2 linked regions of the Homo sapiens genome follow. The protein of the gene in region 1 interacts with the protein of each later gene in a pairwise test. Each region holds a gene or a part of one and is shown on either strand. Other genes may lie near its edges.

Region 1 (5,732 bases):
ATACAAAAATTGGCCAGGCATGGTGGCATGCGCCTGTAGTCCCAGCTACTTGGGAGGCTGAGGCGGGAGGATCTCTTGAGCCCAGGAGGCAGAAGTTGCAGTGAGATGTGATTGTGCCACTGCACTCCAGCCTTGATGACAGAGTGAGACTCTGTCTCAAAAAAGAGAAGAGACACCCTAGATCTCCATCCTTCTCTCTCTCTACCATGTGAGGATGATGGGAAGGCAGCCCTCTGCAAGCCAGGAGGAGAGCCTCAGCAGAAACCGTCCTAGTACCCCTGATCTCGGACTTTCAGCCTCCAGGACTCTGAAAACAGATTTTTGTTGGTTAAGCCAGAAAAGGAAAAAGGAAAAAAATCTTGTAAAAAGGCACTTCAGTACTCTACAAAATTATTTCAAAGGACAGTTACAAATGCAACCATATTCAGCAACAGCATTCCATAAAAATGTCTAATGTTTCTAAGCAACTAAAACTACCTTTTCCTGTTAGGAAGATGCTATAAATATGAAGAAAATCTGATATTTTAAAAGTTAAATAGCAACAAAATTTCAGCAAGTGTTTTAGAATTTTTCCATTTATTATCAAGAAAAAAATCACTATATACAAAGATATTGCAAATGTAATAAAATATTCTGTATAATAAACAGCATTTTGGCATTTTAAAAACAACTGTATCTTGATACTAAACTTAACATTAAATAATTGAACAGTACCTGAGAACTTTAAAAAAATCACTTTCATCAGTGCCTCCAAATTCATTTCAGTCATTAAGCATCTACAAATACTCAGTCAAAAAAAATAGGATTTTGGTATTCTGCTGGGATCTACATTCATCACAGCCAAAGGTATTTTAAGTACATACTTTTAAAACAGAAATCACTTCTAAAGGGTTCACCTGGTCAAAAACCATACATTTAAGAACGCTGGTTACCCAAAAGCTTTGTGTTTTCCTTGCCACATCATCTTAAAGCTACTTGAACTGTGAGACAGTGACCAACATTATTAGCTAATTACCCAGTAAAAATTGAGTGTATCACCAATGAAGTCTCATTAAATTCAGTTCCACAAATGGATCCTCAAATATTCCAACCTTATCTATATTTTATTACATCTTATGGAAAACTATGTTTGATTAGATAATAAAGTTTAAGAGGAAAAATGGGCAAGATGAATGTTTGATACTTTTACCAAAAATTTATATTTCATTTACTTGCTGATTTCCCTGAAAACTCAATTTGTTGAAGAAGCAACATGCTGTACTAATTACTGTGTATTACTATTCACACACAAGTGTTTAATGAATTTTACTTGTAATTCTTTAAATTTTTGAAAGTCCAATAGTAAACTAAAGTTGTGGAAACAACTGATAAGAATATTAGAGGATAATAAATTCTACATCTTTAAATAGGTAAGTACTAGCTGGTGGTATTTTCCTAAAGCCACAGACATTTAGAATAAATAGAGTGATTACTTTTGAAAACTTTGATCTGTATTTTGTTTATTAATAGGGCATGAGTGGTTTTGTCTGTGCTTTTTGCATGCATGAAAAACATTACAGACATGATTACTTTCAAGATTCAATCCTACCCACTGTTAACTTTGTGCTTAACTAAACTCTGCTAAGATGTATTAGTTAAAATATTAATTTGACTACGTCTTAGGCAAAAAAAAGGCATAAAACTAGATACAGACAACCCATACATTTATCTCTGATTAGTCACCTATTTCTGGGCTTATAATAAATGATAAGCCAAAAGAAGGCTCTCCAAAGCTGGGCAATAACTAGTTAATGCTAATGAGAAGTCCATCTCAGGTTTCTTACTAAAGAACCTAATCCATAATGATTTTTCTCACTCTGCTGTGTATTAGATAACTAGAAGGAGTATCTAAATTAAAGATTAATCCGGGACATAGGATATACAGATATTGGTTTATTAACAATATTTGATTCGCACTATATAATTTACAGTGTTTCTTCTTATGTACCATTTTATTTAGTACAACACAACCTGTTAGGTAGCAGGCTGGGTATTACCTGAGTAAAAAGTCCCTATTCTTTCCATTTCTCCATGCTATTTAAAAGCATGTGGTGATCCTTCAATAAATTAAAGATATAACAAATTATTTGATGCCATTAGGCGGCCTGGATCACCAATTCTAAGTCTTTTTTTTTTTTGAGACAGGGTCTTGCCCAGGCTGGAGTGCAGTGGCGTAATCACTGCTCACTACAGACTCAACCTCCTGGGTTCAAGGGATCCTCCCACCTCAGCCTCCCTAATAGCTGGGACCACAGGCACATGTCACCATGCCTGGCTTTCTTTTTCTTATTTATTTATTTATTTATTTTTTATTATACTTTAAGCTTTAGGGTACATGTGCACATTGTGCAGGTTACTTACATATGTATACATGTGCCATGCTGGTGCACTGCACCCACTAACTCGTCATCTAGCATTAGGTATATCTCCCAATGCTATCCCTCCCCCCTCCCCCCACCCCACAACAGTCCCCAGTGTGATATTCCCCTTCCTGTGTCCATGTGTTCTCATTGTTCAATTCCCACCTATGAGTGAGAATATGTGGTGTTTGGTTTCTTGTTCTTGCGATAGTTTACTGAGAATGATGTTTTCCAATTTCATCCATGTCCCTACAAAGGACATGAATTCATCATTTTTTATGGCTGCATAGTATTCCATGGTGTATATGTGCCACATTTTCTTAATCCAGTCTATCATTGTTGGACATTTGGGTTGGTTCCAAGTCTTTGCTATTGTGAATAATGCCGCAATAAACATACGTGTGCATGTGTCTTTATAGCAGCATGATTTATAGTCCTTTGGGTATATACCCAGTAATGGGATGGCTGGGTCAAACGGTATTTCCAGTTCTACATCCCTGAGGAATCGCCACACTGACTTCCACAATGGTTGAACTAGTTTACAGTCCCACCAACAGTGTAAAAGTGTTCCTATTTCTCCACATCCTCTCCAGCACCTGTTGTCTCCTGACTTTTTAATGATTGCCATTCTAACTGGTGTGAGATGGTATCTCATTGTGGTTTTGATTTGCATTTCTCTGATGGCCAGTCATGATGAGCATTTTTTCATGTGTTTTTTGGCTGCATAAATGTCTTCTTTTGAGAAGTGTCTGTTCATGTCCTTCGCCCACTTTTTGATGGGGTTGTTTTTTTCTTGTAAATTTGTTTGAGTTCATTGTAGATTCTGGATATTAGCCCTTTGTCAGATAAGTAGGTTGCGAAAATTTTCTCCCATTTTGTAGGTTGCCTGTTCACTCTGATGGTAGTTTCTTTTGCTGTGCAGCAGCTCTTTAGTTTAATTAGATCCCATTTGTCAATTTTGGCTTTTGTTGCCATTGCTTTTGGTGTTTTAGACATGAAGTCCTTGCCCATGCCTATGTCCTGAATGGTAATGCCTAGGTTTTCTTCTAGGGTTTTTATGGTTTTAGGTCTAACGTTTAAGTCTTTAATCCATCTTGAATTGATTTTTGTATAAGGTGTAAGGAAGGGATCCAGTTTCAGCTTTCTACATATGGCTAGCCAGTTTTCCCAGCACCATTTATTAAATAGGGAATCCTTTCCCCATTGCTTGTTTTTCTCAGGTTTGTCAAAGATCAGATAGTTGTAGATATGCGGCGTTATTTCTGAGGGCTCTGTTCTGTTCCAGTGATCTATATCTCTGTTTTGGTACCAGTACCATGCTGTTTTGGTTACTGTAGCCTTGTAGTATAGTTTGAAGTCAGGTAGTGTGATGCCTCCAGCTTTGTTCTTTTGGCTTAGGATTGACTTGGCGATATGGGCTCTTTTTTGGTTCCATATGAACTTTAAAGTAGTTTTTTCCAATTCTGTGAAGAAAGGCATTGGTAGCTTGATGGGGATGGCACTGAATCTGTAAATTACCTTGGGCAGTATGGCCATTTTCACGATATTGATTCTTCCTACCCATGAGCATGGAATGTTCTTCCATTTGGTTGTATCCTCTTTTTTTTTTTTTTTTTGCAGAGACAGGTTTTCCTTATATTACCCAGGCTAGTCTTGAACTCCTGGGCTCAAGCAATCCCCCTACCTCGGCCTCCCAAAGTGCTGGGATTACAGGCGTGATCCATCCACCATGCCAGTGCCCTGCTCCATGTCTCTCTTAACATGGAAACCATCATGAGTTTTCCTGAAGTATTAGGTTAGACGTTGACAACCCAGCTGTTTCTGTTCACTATGGTTGTGAGAAGCCCAGTTATTTAAAAGGCCATTAAGATTGAAAATAGATTTAGAGGTGTAGGTACAGACTGGGAAGGGGCATGAAGGAAATTTCAGGGGTGCTGGAAATGTCCTAAACATGGTGGTGACATGGGTGTTAACATACATAAAAATTAATTAAGCTGTACATTTAAAATTAGTCCCCTTTATGCATTTTACTCTACATGTGTTATCCTTGCAAAGAAAAAGACTGACATCTTTGAGAGCAAGAGTTTTTGTCTTATTCACCTCTGTATAATTTCCAACATCGTGCTTTGCACATTGGACATTCAAAAAATGTTATACAAGATTGACTGCATCAATACTGGAGTGTTGTGTGAGGGTTAGGTGCTGAGGCTGAGAAGTGTATGAGGGAGACCTGAGATTAAACCTGCCACATAAAGTGGAGAGAAGTAGCAAGGTCAGGGCTATGAAATAATCCCAAAAACTTTAGAATTTCTACATAATACAGTTGACACTACTATTCTCAATAGAGCTGCTTTCAGTCTCAAAGGGCTGTGGTATGTGTGCGTGTGTGTGTGGTAAAAAAGGGAAGCAGCAGGTCAAGGAAGAGAAGTGTTATTTCACAAGACTTAAGTAATCTTGTCATTGCTGCTTTTCCTGCCAGAAAATCATTACCTTTCCCTTTAAAAATCATTTCCATATACATTTTACTAACTCCCATGTCAATTTCACCCTTCCTTTTCTAATAATAGCTACTATTTATTCAGCACCAACTAGTATACTAGGGACTATGCTGGGTGCTGGAGTCCCAATGACGAAAGAGACAAACACTTAAATAAGAGGATGTCCGTAATACAGGCATGTACAAAGCTTCACCTCAAGTAAGGAGGCAGGACCAACCTTCATACAGAAGCCCAGCCTTCAAGGATGAGTGTTCTAGTTCCAGAAGAGCAGAGGCAGAGTGGGTAACATGCTAAAGGTATGGAGGCCTGAGAGAATTGTTTTTTTTCAAGGAATGCTAGCTATGTAATAAGGAATAGGGAGAACATGGTATTTTAACTGGAACATATGGAAAAGATTATTACTAGGGAAAAAAGAATGAAGGCCTTTACTAAGAAGGCAGCAGGAATTAAGAAGGGACATATTCAAGAGGAGACAAGCTCAAAAGGACTTGATGATTAAGTATGAGTGTGATGGAGAAAAAGAATACAATACTTTGAGGTTCCTAGTAAGTATCTTGGGTGGCGTGGTAAATGGTAATGCCATTATGGAAGGTAAAGAAGAGAGCGAGCCAGTTTATCAGGACATTCAGGTAGCATGAAAGAAAACTGAACCTGTGGGCTCTGATAAGATCATCGGAGGGCGGGTAGGGGGAAATAGCACCAACTGAGGGGAGGGGTCAAGACTCATGGGAAATAAATCTCAGGGAGGAATCTTGACTACCACAGAAAACCCAGAGGAGTATGCAAAGAGGGAAGTATAGGAGGTTATACATAGGTCAAGCAGTGTGAGGACTGA
Region 2 (7,431 bases), about 37 Mb from region 1:
CTGTAATCCCAGCACTTTGGGAGGCTGAGGCAGGTGGATCATCTGAGGTCAGGAGTTCGACACCACCCTGGCCAACATGGTGAAACCCTGTCTCTACTAAAAATACAATATTAGCTGGGCGTGGTGGTGTGTGCCTGTAGTTCCAGCTACTTGGGAGGCTGCAGCAGGAGAATCGCTTGAACCCGGCTGGCGGAGGTTGCAGTGAGCCGAGTTTGCGCCACTGCACTCCAGCCTGGGTGACAGAGCAAGACTCCATCTCAAAAAAAAAAAAAAAAAAAAGAGAGAGAGAGAGGAAGGAAGGAAGGAAGGAAGGAAGGGGGAGGGGGAGGGAAGGAAGAAAGGAAAGGAAGGGCAGGCACAGTGGCTAACACCTGTAATCCCAGCACTTTGGGAGGCTGAGGTGGGAGGATCACTTGATGCCAGTATTTCAAGACCAGCCTAGGCAACACAGGGAGACCCCAATTCTACAGAAAAATTTTTAAAAATGAGGTGGGTGCTCACTTTGGCAGCACATATACTAAGACTGAAATGATACAGAGCGTAGCATGGCCCCTGCACAGGGATGACTTGCAAATTTGTGAAGCGTTCCATAAAAAAGGAAAATAAAAAATAATAAAAATAAAAATAAAAATTAGCTGGGTGCAGCGTCCCACACCTGCAGTCCTAGTTACTATGGAGGCTGAGAGGATTTGAGCTCAGGAGTTCAAGGTTACAGTAAGCTATGATCACACCACTGCATTCCAGCCTGGGTGACAGAGTGAGACCCTGTTGGGGAGGTGGGGGTGGGGGCAGTAGGGGAGGAACGTGTGTAGTATGTGACAAATTGAAATTAACATGTGCTTCATGTAAGATGTCTACATGGTACCAATGTACCTTAGGCAGTCAGAGGTAAGGATTTGGAAATCACTGACATAGGGTTAATCATTAAAGTCAAGGTAGTGGAGAACCTCACTGTATAAGATCAGAGGGCCAGGAGGACCAAGGTTTAAATGCTCTTCAGGCATTCCCCAACGCTACTGATTTTGCCTGAAACTAATTGTATACCTATTGTTTCACAATCTCCAGAGTATAAGTTTTTTGGAGAACATGAAATCAAGAACCCTGGGTGTTTTAGGAGGGAAAAGACCACTGTATTAGTTCAGGTCTCCGGAGAGGTGGTCAGAAAACTAAGAGCCGGTGCTCAGTATATAACCATTTAATTCTGTTTTTCATCTTCTTTAAAGACAACTCATGACGAGAATCAAGGGATTCAGGTGAACTGGCATTTCCAGCAGGTTTAAACAAAAGTACATCCCTCCCCCAACTTGTTTTCCAAGTTTATTGTATTTCCACTATAAAATGATTTCAAGTTCTTTACACTTATTTGGAAACAAAAATCATACACAAGAAAAAAATTAAGAAGAGTTAACGAAAAAACATTCATCCAAAGAAAATTATGACTAATCCCTCTAGACTCTTCTATGCATAGTTTGGCTGTCAAACTTTTTCAGTTATACTGTGCAACTTTGTATCACGGTTTTCATCTAACATTATATATTAGCATTTCCCTATGTTATTTAAAAGTTTAATAAATTAGTTTTAGAGGCCACTTCACATACACTCAGTGAAGTGACATAATGTACTGAACTGCTCCTAGCTGTACCCAACTTTATCCCGCTACCCGCTATAAATAAAGCTCGGACCGAGGTCTTAAGGCTTAAAGCATTTCCTGACTTTGGATGACTTCCTTGGGACATATTCCCAGGAGTGTTATTCACGAGTCACGGTCATAATCCCTCATTTACACCCACCCCTAGCTCGATCCTCATCCCGCGACCCCTCACACGCGGCCCGCCCCATTCTCCTCATCCTCTCTGCACGCCTGAATCTCCTCCTTCCCGCCCCCTACCCACCAAGAGCCGATCCACTTCCCTCCTGACCCCCTACAGCCTCCCCACACCCGCCAGGCCCGGCAGCAGTGGAGATGAAATACCTTAGGTCTCACTGCCTCACAAAAACACCAATCTCTCTGTGGCCGCCCAACATCACGCCGCCGCACATAAGAAGTTCTGGGCAGCCACCGGAAGCACCGGCCCTCAGTCCTCTGATAGGTGGGCGGTGATATCGGTCCTCTGATAGGTGGGTGGTCCTCTGATAGGATAGGCACGCTCCGAGATGGCCCCGTCTATTGGCTTTTGAATATGCACATTAGCAGAGGGTTCGTCCCACTGGCCAATAAGCTCTGGCTCTGCCGCACGGATCGCTGGGAGTGGTAGTCCCCGTAAAACCACCGACCGCAAGCCCGCCACATTTTCCCTCCCTTAAGCACTTGAGCTCTTTCCCCACTTCTCGTCGGTTCTCTTGTCTAAGGAGTCCAGGAGCCCTAGGATCACCACGGCTTTTTAACCTTCTTTAAAATCTGATAAAATCTCTCAGGAAAATGTTCTTATCTGTACACAAAATACTGTGCATTGAGCTGAAGCCGCTGCATGGGCCTGTCCCAGCTACAAATCCCTGTTCTACCCCGACCCTAAGCGTGCCTGCTCTGGCCGCAGCCTATGGATTTAGTGCGTCCCTTAGGCTTCTTCAGACCTATGAGGAATTCCAGGTCCTGACCCTCACAGTACAGTCGACAATCATCTTTCTTTAACAACACAGCCAGAACACCTTCAGGGATGCAGACAACCTCATCTGGGACCTAAGCATCCGGGAGAGTGGGGATGAGGAAATGGAGGAAGAACACCCTTGGGGCTCATTCTGGACCAGTTTGCCAGGCTTTTCTCCCCATGCCTATCTTCCAGTGCCACTCAGGAGAATCATATCTTCACATCAGTTTTTATGTTTTTCTTTTTCTTTTCTTTTCTTTTTTTAAAAATAAAGATGGCATGCCTGTAATCCCAGCACTTTGGGAGGCTGAGGCGGGCGGATAACCTGAGGTCGGGAGTTCGAGACCAGCCTGGCCAACATGGTGAAACCCTGTCTCTACTAAAAATTTAAAAATTAGCCGAACGCTGGTGTCTCACGCCTGTAATCCCAGCTACTTGGGAGACTGAGGCACGAGAATCGCTTGAACCTGGGAGGCGGAGGTTGCAGTGAGCCGAGATTGTGCCACTGCACTCCATCCTGGCGACAGAGTGAAGATTCTGTCTCAAAAAAAAAAAAAAAAAAAAGGAGAGAGAGAGAGACGGGATCTCGCTATGTTACCCAGGCTGGTCTTGAACTTCTAGGCTCAAGCAATCCTCCTGCCTCGGTCTCCTACAGTGTTGAGATTACAGGTGTGAGCCATTGTTCCAAAAATTGATATACTTGGCCTCACATCAATTTTTGGAACAATGCAGGTAATAATGAGGGGGAAAAAATTTTAAAAGTCCCAATTACCCTTTAAACAAATATTACCTCCTCCAAAAAATATTTTTCTAGATTCCTGAATGTATTTTTTGGTGGAGGAGGAACTCAAAGTAGAATTCATTTACATATTCATTCATTCATTCCACAGCACTAATCACTCCATGCAGTAACTGTGTGTCCCCGTCCCTCTCAGACTTAGTACCTGGAAGACAGCCAACCTGTCTTAATTCTATTGGTATCCCCAGGGCGCATTTCTTTGCCTTGAAAATTGAGTACCCAATAAATGTGCGTCGAGCAGAACTACACGAGATGGAGAACAGGGGTTTAGGGGTATGGGGGAGAGTCAGCAATTACTGGTGTCCTCCCTCCCTCCCCCAGCTCTGCTCCTACAGATCCAGGACGCCTAGCGAGGGTAGGAACCTCTTCTGTGCTTCCGCAACGCTCTGAACTGCACGGCACTGAGCGCATCTAATTAAAGTGATGGTTTCATTAGATAGCAACACAGCGAGACCCCGTTTCTACAAAAAATAAAAATAAAAAATAAAAGATTAGCTGGGCGTGGTTGCTCGCGCCTCTAGTCCCAGCTACTTGGGTGGAGGCTGAGGAAGAAGGATCGCTTGAGCCTAAGAGTTCGAGGTTGCTGTGAGCTATGATCGCGCCACTGGACTCCAGCCTGGGCGACAGAGCAAGATCCTCTGTCTAAAATAAAAATAAAAATAAAATGATGGTTTAATCGCCGGCCTTTGCCCCTTCTGCCCCCCACCCCCCACAAGTCTGTAGGACTGGGTTGACTTCCCAGAGCTTACTACAGATTAGATGCTAAATAAATGTCTATTGGACGGATGCGCGAATGAATGGATGGATGGAGGATGTGGTTGTGCTTACCACGCTCCCTGGTCAGTGGGTTAATGTCGTCAGGCGGGGCCAGGCTCGCTAACAGCCGGGCGGGGTCCCTTCCCCCGGGCCCCGCCCCGGCCGACCCCACCTTTCCGCGCGGCTCCGCCCCGCCGCCCCCTTGCCAGTGGCCCCTCCCCGCGCAGGTCCCGACTCCAGCCGCACCTCCTCCGGCTCTGCAGTGGCGGCGAGGAGGCGAGCCGGAGCGACGGCGGGGCTGGGGCCGGAGCCGAGCCGGGGTCGGGCAGCAGCAGGGACCCCCCAGAGGCGGGGCCTGTGGGACCGCTATGGGCGTGGAGATCGAGACCATCTCCCCCGGAGACGGTACCGGGCTCCCTCCGGAGCCAGGGGAGGGGAGGGGTCCCGGGGCGGAGCCCGGAGGGCGGGGGTCTGATTCGGAGGTGGCGTGGAGGGTGCTGAAGGGTCGGGGGGCTGGATGGGGAAGGCAGGCGGAGACGCCGGACGGGATTCTTGGGGGTCTAGGAGACCATCCTCCGCCATCCTCTTCCGCGCTCACCTAGGGGAATGTAGGCGGCAGCTCGGAGGCGGGGGTCTGCGGCCCGGAGGCGGGGGTCTGCGGCCCGCCACCGCCCCGGGCTTCTCCTGTCGCGGCTGCAGTCGTTCGGTTATCCGCTGCTGCTGATACCCCAGCCTGGGTTTCGGCTTCGCTTTCCCTGCCCTACTCGGCGAGCTCTGGAAAGCAGGACCTGCTCTCGGATACCCGCTGCTCGGGGACCTCCTCCTAGCGCGTCCCCCGCCGGGCCTCCCCTCGGTCGCTTCCCTGCGGGCCGGGCTGTGAGCGGCTGTGGGGACAGACCCAGGCTGGGGAAGGGGGAAGCGCTCCCTTGCCCGCTTCCGGATCTCGCTTTATCCTGCCGCCGCTTTCAGACTCCCTGGCCACCCTGTCCACTCCCATGGCCTCCACATTGAAGCTTCTAAGCCCAGCCCTGCGACCTACGGCCGAACCTCTCCCTGGACGTCCCAGGGTGCTCCCTGGTCAGCAAGTCCAAAACAGAACTCTCGCTTCCCACCTTCTCTCCTAAGTGATCCTCTTTATCCCCCTTCCGTGTCTCACTTTCCCAAGTCCTTGTATTACTGGGTCTGGGTGTGCAAGGAATAGCCATTTCTTTATTTCTTGAAATTTAATTAATACCAAAGCCCCCATTGTCTGCAGGGTTTGATGGGCAAACTTCATATCAGATATTATTAATATGAACAGCTCCCCTCCCCAGGAAATTGGATAACTTCTTGGCTCCAGGCCATCTTCCTTGTCCAATCCCAGCCACTACTTCAGATATCCCCTGGAGTACAGGCTTCTTTGCCCACGCAGGAAACATTGCTGCTGGGTCCCAGAAAGCATCTCCCTGAGGCCTTTTCATCCCTCAGCAGCCCCTGAGCTAATCTCCCCATCTTCAGTCTCTCCTCCCTGCTTTCAATCTCGTCCCCAATCTCATATTCACTCCCTTTCTATATCATAGCCTGAAGACTCTTCTTAAAATGCAGTGGCTCACGCCTGTAATCCCAGCACTTTGGGAGGCTGAGGCGGGCGGATCACAAGGTCAGGAGTTCGAGACCAGCCTGACCAACATGTTGAAACCCCGTCTCTACTAAAAATACAAAAATTAGCTGGGCATGGTGGTACGCACCTGTAATCCCAGCTACTCGGGAGGCTGGGGCAGGAGAATCACTTGACCCTGGGAGCCAGAGGTTGCAGTGAGCTGAGATTGTGCCATTGCACTCCAGCCTGGGTGACAGAGCAAGACTCTATCTCAAAAAAAAAAAAGAAAAAAAATGCATGTTTGACTATGCCCCTCCCTCAGGCAGAAGATGTTTTAATGATTCTTCCCTCTCCCCCAGGAGGGGCCTTTGGTGCTATGGTCTATTCTCATCTTCCACACTAGAGCTTCATCTCTCACCACCTGTCCTAAGCCCACCACTAACTTTTTCCTCCAGCTTTCCCAAGCTGCCTGCAAGTTGTCAAACACACCACTCGTTCAGCAAATATTTATTGAACGTGTGTGCTAGGCCCTAAGGTGACACAGTTGAAACAGACAGGGTTCCCGCTATTGCTGGACTGAGGGCCTTTGAACATGTTACATGTTGTTCCCTCTTCCCAGATGGTGTTTTTTCACTTCCTCTGGCAAACTCTTACTTGTCTTTCAAGACCTGGCTTCACCATTCTCTCCTCTATGATGTTTTCCTTGACTTCTGTGGTCAGTTAGCTGCTCCCTCCTCCAGGATCCCATAGAGTCCTCTAAATATCGGCTCTGTGGTTAGGCTTCCTTAGGCTTTGTATCCAGCCCCGTAGCTTTAAATTCCAGCCAAATTTATACCTCCAGTGCAGACTCTTCATCTGCCTACTTGCAATATAAACTCAGATGTCTAATAGGCATCTCAAGATTGCCACCCGCACAAATCTGTTCCTCCCGTCTTCCCTATCTCAGGAAATAGTTGCACTATTCATCCAGTTGCCCAAACAGAAAACCCAAGCATCGTTCTTGTTGTCTCCTTTGTCCTCATCCTGGACCCCATTTCCAGTCTGATTGCATGACCTGTCAGCTCCGCTTCGAAAATATGTCTCCAATCTTTCACTCTCTTCTCTGCTGCCACCACCTTAAATCAAGCTATCATTGATTTCTTGTCTGGATTATTGCAACAGACGCCTAACCGTCCATCCTACACATAGCAGCCAGAGTGATGTTATAAAATCTTAATTCAGATTATGTCATTCTCTGGCTTAAAACCCTCCAGTGGTTTCCTATTGCACTTAGTATTAAATCCGGCTCTTCAAGCCCTGCATGATCCATGTCCTTCCCACCTCTCTCCTCCCTCCCTTCTTTCCAGCACCTAGCCTCCTTGCTCACTGCAAATGTGTTGATTCTGTGCACTTGTTACTCCTTTCCCAAGTGCTATTTCCCAGTATTTTGCTCATCCTTCAAGTCCCAGCTCCAGGGGGCACCTTCTCCAAGAGGCCATCCTGGACCACTCTGTCTGAAATGGCCTGTCCCACTGCATCTCCCTTTAATACATCATTGTGTGTATTTTCTTTAGAGTATTCATCATAATCCATAATCATTTTGTATATTTAAGTATTGTCTCTGTCCATTAGAATATAAACTCCAGGGCGGGTTTGGTGGCTCATGCCTATAATCTCAGCACTTTGGGAGGTTGAGGTGGGAGAATCTCTTGAGCTCAGGAGTTCAAGGCCAA

What was found. The genes of interacting proteins can lie anywhere in the genome.
Region 2: the proteins of REL (region 1) and FKBP1B interact in binary tests that used the Homo sapiens proteins (3 or more experiments, as listed by UniProt).

What each region holds. Positions count from the first base shown.
Region 1 is NC_000002.12:60,926,438-60,932,169, reverse strand, and holds the end of REL (proto-oncogene c-Rel), read right to left. Parts: 3' UTR 558-5,732; downstream 1-557. UniProt on the Homo sapiens protein: Proto-oncogene that may play a role in differentiation and lymphopoiesis.
Region 2 is NC_000002.12:24,045,342-24,052,772, forward strand, and holds the start of FKBP1B (peptidyl-prolyl cis-trans isomerase FKBP1B), read left to right. Parts: upstream 1-4,399; 5' UTR 4,400-4,508; coding exon 4,509-4,545; intron 4,546-7,431. UniProt on the Homo sapiens protein: Has the potential to contribute to the immunosuppressive and toxic effects of FK506 and rapamycin. PPIases accelerate the folding of proteins. It catalyzes the cis-trans isomerization of proline imidic peptide bonds in oligopeptides.